2 linked regions of the Homo sapiens genome follow. The protein of the gene in region 1 purifies or fractionates together with the protein of each later gene. This does not show direct contact. Each region holds a gene or a part of one and is shown on either strand. Other genes may lie near its edges.

Evidence for each region. Proteins that work in one complex are often made in the same cells at the same time.
Region 2: the proteins of SBF1 (region 1) and SUPT16H purify together in Homo sapiens (affinity purification with mass spectrometry; 2 studies listed by BioGRID and IntAct, with this or other methods). This does not show direct contact.

Annotation. Positions count from the first base shown.
Region 1 is NC_000022.11:50,454,436-50,458,181, reverse strand, and holds part of SBF1 (myotubularin-related protein 5), read left to right. Parts: intron 1-1,070; coding exon 1,071-1,148; intron 1,149-1,508; coding exon 1,509-1,690; intron 1,691-1,786; coding exon 1,787-1,966; intron 1,967-2,599; coding exon 2,600-2,701; intron 2,702-2,772; coding exon 2,773-2,958; intron 2,959-3,039; coding exon 3,040-3,166; intron 3,167-3,237; coding exon 3,238-3,368; intron 3,369-3,439; coding exon 3,440-3,670; intron 3,671-3,746. UniProt on the Homo sapiens protein: Acts as an adapter for the phosphatase MTMR2 to regulate MTMR2 catalytic activity and subcellular location. Promotes the exchange of GDP to GTP, converting inactive GDP-bound Rab proteins into their active GTP-bound form.
Region 2 is NC_000014.9:21,363,279-21,367,024, reverse strand, and holds part of SUPT16H (FACT complex subunit SPT16), read left to right. Parts: intron 1-495; coding exon 496-586; intron 587-1,881; coding exon 1,882-1,955; intron 1,956-2,085; coding exon 2,086-2,198; intron 2,199-3,521; coding exon 3,522-3,587; intron 3,588-3,696; coding exon 3,697-3,746. UniProt on the Homo sapiens protein: Component of the FACT complex, a general chromatin factor that acts to reorganize nucleosomes. The FACT complex is involved in multiple processes that require DNA as a template such as mRNA elongation, DNA replication and DNA repair.

The DNA of each region.
Region 1 (3,746 bases):
AGGTGCCCGCCACCGCGCCCGGCTGATTTTTTTGTATTGTATTTTTAGTAGAGACAGGGTTTTACCGTGTTAGCCAGGATGATCTCGATCTCCTGACCTGGTGATCCGCCCGCCTCGGCCTCCCAAAGTGCTGGGATTACAGGCGTGAGCCACTGCGCCTGGCCAGCTCTGACCTTTTTACAAGGATACACTGGGCCCTGGTTGGCGTCCAAAGCAGGCTGGTGCTGCGTCCTCACTGTGAGCTGGGCGCCTGCAGTGTGGCAGCCGTCAGAGGACACAGGGCGTGTTGGGCTGGCATTGTGCTTGGCCTGTAGTGACCACTTGGTGGACGAGGGGACATTGCCTCTCTCAGTCCCACCCTCGGGCCTTGCAGAAGCAGGTGAGCCTGGGCAGGGCCAGGCGCCCAGAGACCCTCTGTGGACCCCAGGCATCTCCCAGCCCTTTGGGCTGCCAGTCCTCCCTGTGCCTTCAGGCCACGTCGTCTGGACCGTAAACCTCAGCCTGGGACTCAGATCTGCCTGTGTCCTGGACTGAGCTGCTCTCCGTCCTTTTGGACTGGGCTCAGGCTCTGAGCCCACCCTCTCCCCTCTTCGGGAAGCCTCCAGGTCGCCTCTTCTCCAGGCCACACCTCTTGGGCACCTCCTGTTGCTGTGCCCTGGACAGAGGCGTCTACATGCTCATGTGTGGAGCGTTCTGAGCTGTGCCCATCACAAGCCCTGGCCCCCTGAGTGGAGGACAAAGGGCCAGGATGTGGAGGGAGGGACTCAGAGACAGACTTGCTCTAAGCTGGTTTGAGTGGGAAGAAAGGAAGTGTTAGAGGAGAGCCCGGGATCCCCACCGCATAGCCCTTCTGCTGCCACGGAGTGCTCTGCGGCCTGCCCTGCCCTGGCAGAGAGGCCCACACCAGGATGGCTCTTCCCACTTTCCTGCGATCAGGGACTTGGGGCTGACCCCTGCTGTCTCCAGGCTCCCTGGGGGCTTGGTGGAACCCTCTGACCTGTAGGCACCCCCAAGCTGGGCACGCCCAGGCCTGGGGCTAGGCCTGAGCCTTCTCTCTGCTGTGCCCTCAGTTCCCAGCCCCAGAGCCAGGGTCACCACGCTGTCCAACCCCATGGCGGCCTCGGCCTCCAGACGGACCGCACCCCGAGGTACCGTACCGAGCCTGCGCAGGCCCGCCTCCCCTTACTTGGTGCTGGCGGCCTCTAGTGTGCACTGAGTTATTGCGGGCACTAATGTCTCCCTCCACACCTGACACTAACGACCCGTCTCCCGAGCCCCAGTCCTTACCTCCCTGACCCGTGAGTCCTGCCCTAGAAACTAACACTGGCTGCCACCCCACGTCTCAGAATCTGTGTGTTCCAGCCCTCCTCTCGCACGGCCCTGCTGGGGTCCTGCCAACCACCCCTGCCCTGGGAGCTCAGCCCCCTCCCTGGAGGCCGGGCCCAGCCAGCCCCAGGTAAGTGGTGCCCTGGCCCCCTTTGGGTGCTTACCTGGCATCTCCTTCACAGGTAAGTGGGGCAGTGTCCGGACCAGTGGACGCAGCAGTGGCCTTGGCACCGATGTGGGCTCCCGGCTAGCTGGCAGAGACGCGCTGGCCCCACCCCAGGCCAACGGGGGCCCTCCCGACCCGGGCTTCCTGCGTCCGCAGCGAGCAGCCCTCTATATCCTTGGGGACAAAGCCCAGCTCAAGGTGACTGGGGTGCGGGGGGTGGGGGGTGAGGGTGGGGGCTCGGCAGGGGGCTTGGGGCCTCATGTGTCTCACGGGACTTGTCCGGATTCTTTTCAGGGTGTGCGGTCAGACCCCCTGCAGCAGTGGGAGCTGGTGCCCATTGAGGTATTCGAGGCACGGCAGGTGAAGGCTAGCTTCAAGAAGCTGCTGAAAGCATGTGTCCCAGGCTGCCCCGCTGCTGAGCCCAGCCCAGCCTCCTTCCTGCGCTCACTGGAGGACTCAGAGTGGCTGATCCAGGTCTCTGCACTGCCCCGTCCCTCTGCCCGCCTTGGTGCTGGGCCCTCCCCTTGGGTAGAGCCAAGTGGACGGGTCTAGGTTTGCTTGTCTGACAGTGTGGAGCGCTGGAAGGAGGAGGTGACAGCCACTTCCCACCCAGGCTCTGGTGCCTAGAAGGCAGCTGGGAGGCTGGGCCTGGCTGGGGCCAGCTGACAGTGAGAGTGGCCAGGGCTTGGGCATGGGTATGTCGGAGCAGCCTGCTGGGCCCACGTGGGCTGATGACCACACGGGGGATGCAGTTTATGGTTCTGGGCCCCTGCTGCATTCTCTCGGGGGTGGGTACTGACAGGATGCTGGCTTGGTAAACACTGGAGGGCTTGAAGGTAGGGCCACCGGCATCTTGAGGGACAGGGACGTCCCTCAGTCCTAGAGGGCTTGGAAGGGGGTGGGCTGTGACCAGCAGGCTGGAGGCGGTGGTCGGCACACCCAGAGCGAGCTGTGTTTGTCCAGTGCTCTGCCCGCATACAGGGCTTGGGGGGCTGTGGACAGGGCCTGCCTCCCCGCTGCCTGTGGACATGCGGGTCTCTGGCCTGGTGAGTGGCCAGGCGGGAGGGCGGTGGGTCCCCGAGGTGCTGAGGCCGCCTGTCCCTGCAGATCCACAAGCTGCTGCAGGTGTCTGTGCTGGTGGTGGAGCTCCTGGATTCAGGCTCCTCCGTGCTGGTGGGCCTGGAGGATGGCTGGGACATCACCACCCAGGTGTGTGGCGCGTGGGGCTGGGGTGGGCCAGGCTCCCGGGCTCCTCGCTGACCTCCTGGCGGTGCTGGCAGGTGGTATCCTTGGTGCAGCTGCTCTCAGACCCCTTCTACCGCACGCTGGAGGGCTTTCGCCTGCTGGTGGAGAAGGAGTGGCTGTCCTTCGGCCATCGCTTCAGCCACCGTGGAGCTCACACCCTGGCCGGGCAGAGCAGCGGCTTCACACCCGTCTTCCTGCAGTTCCTGGACTGCGTACACCAGGTGGGCAGGCCGCTGTGTGGGTGGGCCGGGACTGTGCACCCTGACCGCTGAGCCCTGGCCCCTGACCCACATGGCGTGCAGGTCCACCTGCAGTTCCCCATGGAGTTTGAGTTCAGCCAGTTCTACCTCAAGTTCCTCGGCTACCACCATGTGTCCCGCCGTTTCCGGACCTTCCTGCTCGACTCTGACTATGAGCGCATTGAGCTGGGTATGTGGGGAGTCGGGGCTGGGGCAGCCACGGGTCAGGAGGGGCCCAGGCTCAGTGCTGCTTCTGTGCAGGGCTGCTGTATGAGGAGAAGGGGGAACGCAGGGGCCAGGTGCCGTGCAGGTCTGTGTGGGAGTATGTGGACCGGCTGAGCAAGAGGACGCCTGTGTTCCACAATTACATGTATGCGCCCGAGGACGCAGAGGTAAGCTGGGGCCTGGGTCGGGTAGGCGGCTCCTGCCCGACCCAGGTCCTCAACCACAGGCCCACCCTCAGGTCCTGCGGCCCTACAGCAACGTGTCCAACCTGAAGGTGTGGGACTTCTACACTGAGGAGACGCTGGCCGAGGGCCCTCCCTATGACTGGGAACTGGCCCAGGGGCCCCCTGAACCCCCAGAGGAAGAACGGTCTGATGGAGGCGCTCCCCAGAGCAGGCGCCGCGTGGTGTGGCCCTGTTACGACAGCTGCCCGCGGGCCCAGCCTGACGCCATCTCACGCCTGCTGGAGGTGCGTGTGATCCCAGAGCAGGGTCTGGCCTGGCACCCCCCTCCTCTCGCTCAGACACCAGGGTCGTGCGTGTGTG
Region 2 (3,746 bases), on another chromosome or scaffold:
AGCTTGCAGTGAAGTAGGATCACGCCACTGCACTCCAGCCTGGGCAACAGAGTGAGACTCCATCCAAAAAAAAAAGAATGGGGCCAGGTGGAGTGATTTACACCTATAATTCCTGCACTTTGGGAAGCCAAGGTGGGAGGATTGCTTGAGTCCAGTTTGAGACCAGCCTGGGCAACATGGCAGACCATGTCTCTACAAAAAATAAAAAATTAGCTGGGCATAGTGGTGTGTGCCTATAGTCCCAGTTACTTGGGAGGCTGAGGTGGGAGGATCATTGAGTCTGGGAGGTCAGGGCTGCAGTGATCCGTAATCATGCTACTGCACTCCAGCCTGAGTGACAGAGTGAGACCTTGTCTCAAAAAAAAAAAGTGAGTGGACTGTTTAGTTCACACTTTGAGAAACACTGCTTTAGGGGACATAAATTTTGATTTTAAAATGTTACTGAGTTTTTTTCCTAAAAGATACTTTAATATCTCCTTTGTGTCTTGTTATTAGGTGTGAAGATATGTGACGTGTATAACGCTGTCATGGACGTGGTTAAAAAGCAGAAGCCAGAACTGCTGAACAAAATTACCAAAAACCTAGGGTATGCCATGATGTCTATTGTCATTCTTGAGTCAGTTTTCAGTTAGACTGTCAGTGGTCAGTCTTATTTCTTTAGGCTAATTGATTGATTCAGCCAACATTTATGGACTAGCAAACTATACTATGTGCCAGGCACATGATGTTATCAGAGAAGGTGAGACAGATTTAAGTTCTCCCAAGTGTATAAGAGAGATTTTTCTAGACCAGTGTGGTGTTCCAGCCCATAGGTTTTCCAGGATATAATTACAGATGTTAGGAAATATTATCAATACATACTATATCTCCTCTCTCCGTGCACATTTGCAACTTAAGTACTCTGAGATGTCCTAATATTTTATTTAGAGACAGGGTCTCACTCTGTCCAGGCTGGAGTGCAGTGGTGCAGTCGTGCCTCACTGCAGTCTAGACCTTCTGGGCTCCAGCAATCCTCCCATCTCAGCTCCCCCAATAACTGGGACCAAGGCACGTGCCACCACACCCAGCTCATTTTTTTATTTTTTGTAGAAACAGGGTCTCGCTATGTTGCCCAGGCTGGTCTTGACCTCGTGGGCTCAAGCAGTCCTCCCACCTTGATCTCCCAAAGTGCTGGGATTACAGATGTGAGCCACTGTGCCTGGCCGTTTGTTTGTTTTGGGGGTTTTTTTTTGTTTTGGTTTTGGTTTTGGTTTTGGTTTTGGTTTGTTTATTCAATCCAGTGTATTTCTCAAATGTATTTTATACATTTCTCAAATGTATTTTATCACTGAACACCTAGAAATACCTAATAACGTGTAATGGAACAAAGGACATTTTGGGAAACAAAGCTTTATGTAGGCATTCTCTTTAGATGAAAACTAGTCTATGGTATATAGTTTCTAGACTTCTCTCATGGAAATATATACCTATATAACAAGTCTTACGAATCTGGTTTACCAGTGTTCCACTAAAAATTGCCCCTTTTAATCTAGTAATTACTGTCTTAGTAATGTACCCCTTAATAATCTCTATGTTGTTTCTAGGAGTACTACTGACTTGATTTTATGGTAGAAGGTTAAAGTTTAAATGTGGGCAAATAAGCTAAAATTAAAAAGGCTCGATATAATCAATTAGGAAATTATTTTTCGCCATGGGATTATACAGCATGTTTAGAGGCCAAAGACTGTCTTTGAATCCTCTTTTCTAACTGAGCGGTCAGCAGGGGTAAATCATTTCAAACATGTTTGCCTGTCTTATTGTGAAAGTTGAAATGAATATGTTATGCTTGATCCATGTTAGAGATCTTTAGCCTTTTGCTGATGTTTATCTGTTTCTTTTCAGGTTTGGGATGGGAATTGAATTCCGTGAAGGCTCCCTAGTAATCAATAGCAAAAATCAATACAAACTGAAGAAAGGTAAGTTTCACATACAATAGGAAAATGCTTTTGTGAGTTACTTCCTTTAGCTTTATTTTCTTTTAGGCATATGTCTCACACCTCTCCACATTGTCACAGCCACAGACTGATCCTTGTTTTGCTGTTTTAGGAATGGTTTTCAGCATCAATTTAGGATTCTCAGACCTGACTAACAAGGAGGGGAAAAAGCCAGAAGAGAAAACCTATGCCCTGTTCATTGGTGACACAGTGCTTGTGGATGAGGTGTGTATTGTGTCTAAACTTTGGAGTCTTCATGAACTAACTTCTGAGGCACGTTTGTGGACCCTGTGGTTTTTTTCTTGCTTTGTTAAATGCTAGCTAAGGGGAAGAATCCGTGTGACAGCCTAACCTAATGCAGCTAGGAATAGAGACTGTAGCCCAGGTATAGGGAATGATATAAACCTTTAAATCATATTGTCATATTGTGGCTTGAACCTTGATAATGATAATATCAGGAACTAATACTAATAATGAAACCGGTTATTCTTTTTTCTTTTTAATAACAGCTTTATTGAGCTACAATTCACATACTATACAATTCACCCACCTGATATGTACAATTTAGTGATTTTTAGTATTTTCACATTTGTGTAACCATCACTACAATCTAATTTGAAAATATTTTCATCACCTCAGGAAAGAACCCTGAACCTATTAGCAGTCACTCCCCATCCCCCTTCCCTTCCCCCACTGGTTCTTCAGGCCTAGGCAATGACTAAACTGCGTTCTCTCTAAGGATTTGCTAAATATCTGAGCAGTTGATGTAAATTCAGTCATACCCTATGTGGTCTTTTGTGACTGGCTTCTTTCCCTCAGCGAACTGATTTTTAATAATAGTGAGCACAGATAGTTCAGTGTTTTTATCATAAGCTAAGCAGTTTACATTAATTCATTGAAATAGTACCTTGTGAAGTAGATACTCTTATTACCTCCATTTACAGATAAATTGAAGGCACAGACAAGTTTAAGTAACTTGCCAAATGTCACTGAGGTAGAAAGCAACTGAGCCAGGCTTCAAATCAAACCTGTATTAGTGATTACCCAATGTTGCCTCCCAAATTGTAGCTCTTGGCTGGGCGCAGTGGCTCACGCGTGTAATCCTAGCACTTTCGGAGGCCAAGGCAGGTGGATCACCTGAGGTCAGGAGTTTGAGACCAGCCTGACCAACATGGTGAATCCCCGGCCCTACTAAAAATACAAAAATTAGCCAGGTGTGGTGGTGCGCGTCTGTAATTCCAGCTACTCGGGAGGCTGAGGCAGGAGAATCACTTGAATCCGGGAGGCGGAGGTTGCAGTGAGCTGAGGTCACGCCATTGCACTCCAGCCTCGTTGACAAGAGTGAAACTCTGTCTCAAAAAAAAGAAAAAGAAAAAAAATTGTAGCTCCTGACGAGAGGTTAGAGGTTAGAAGGATAAAAACTATATTTATTCATTGTCAAACATTTTAGTGTCCAAAAGATTCAAAGCATTGCCCAGCCGTTTACTAGGTTAGAAAATGAAATTGCCTCTTTTAAATAATGTGTCTTCATTCTCCTTTTAATTCTAGGATGGCCCAGCTACTGTTCTCACTTCTGTGAAGAAGAAAGTGAAGAATGTGGGGATTTTCCTAAAGGTAGGAAGAAGATAGATAAGTAGTATAGGAAGTTTAGGATATAAAGAAGTTAAATAATATTGGCTAAAATAATTAAAATTTCATTTTTTGATTATGACTTTTTCCATAGAATGAAGATGAGGAAGAAGAGGAGGAGGAGAAAGATGAGGCAGAGGACCT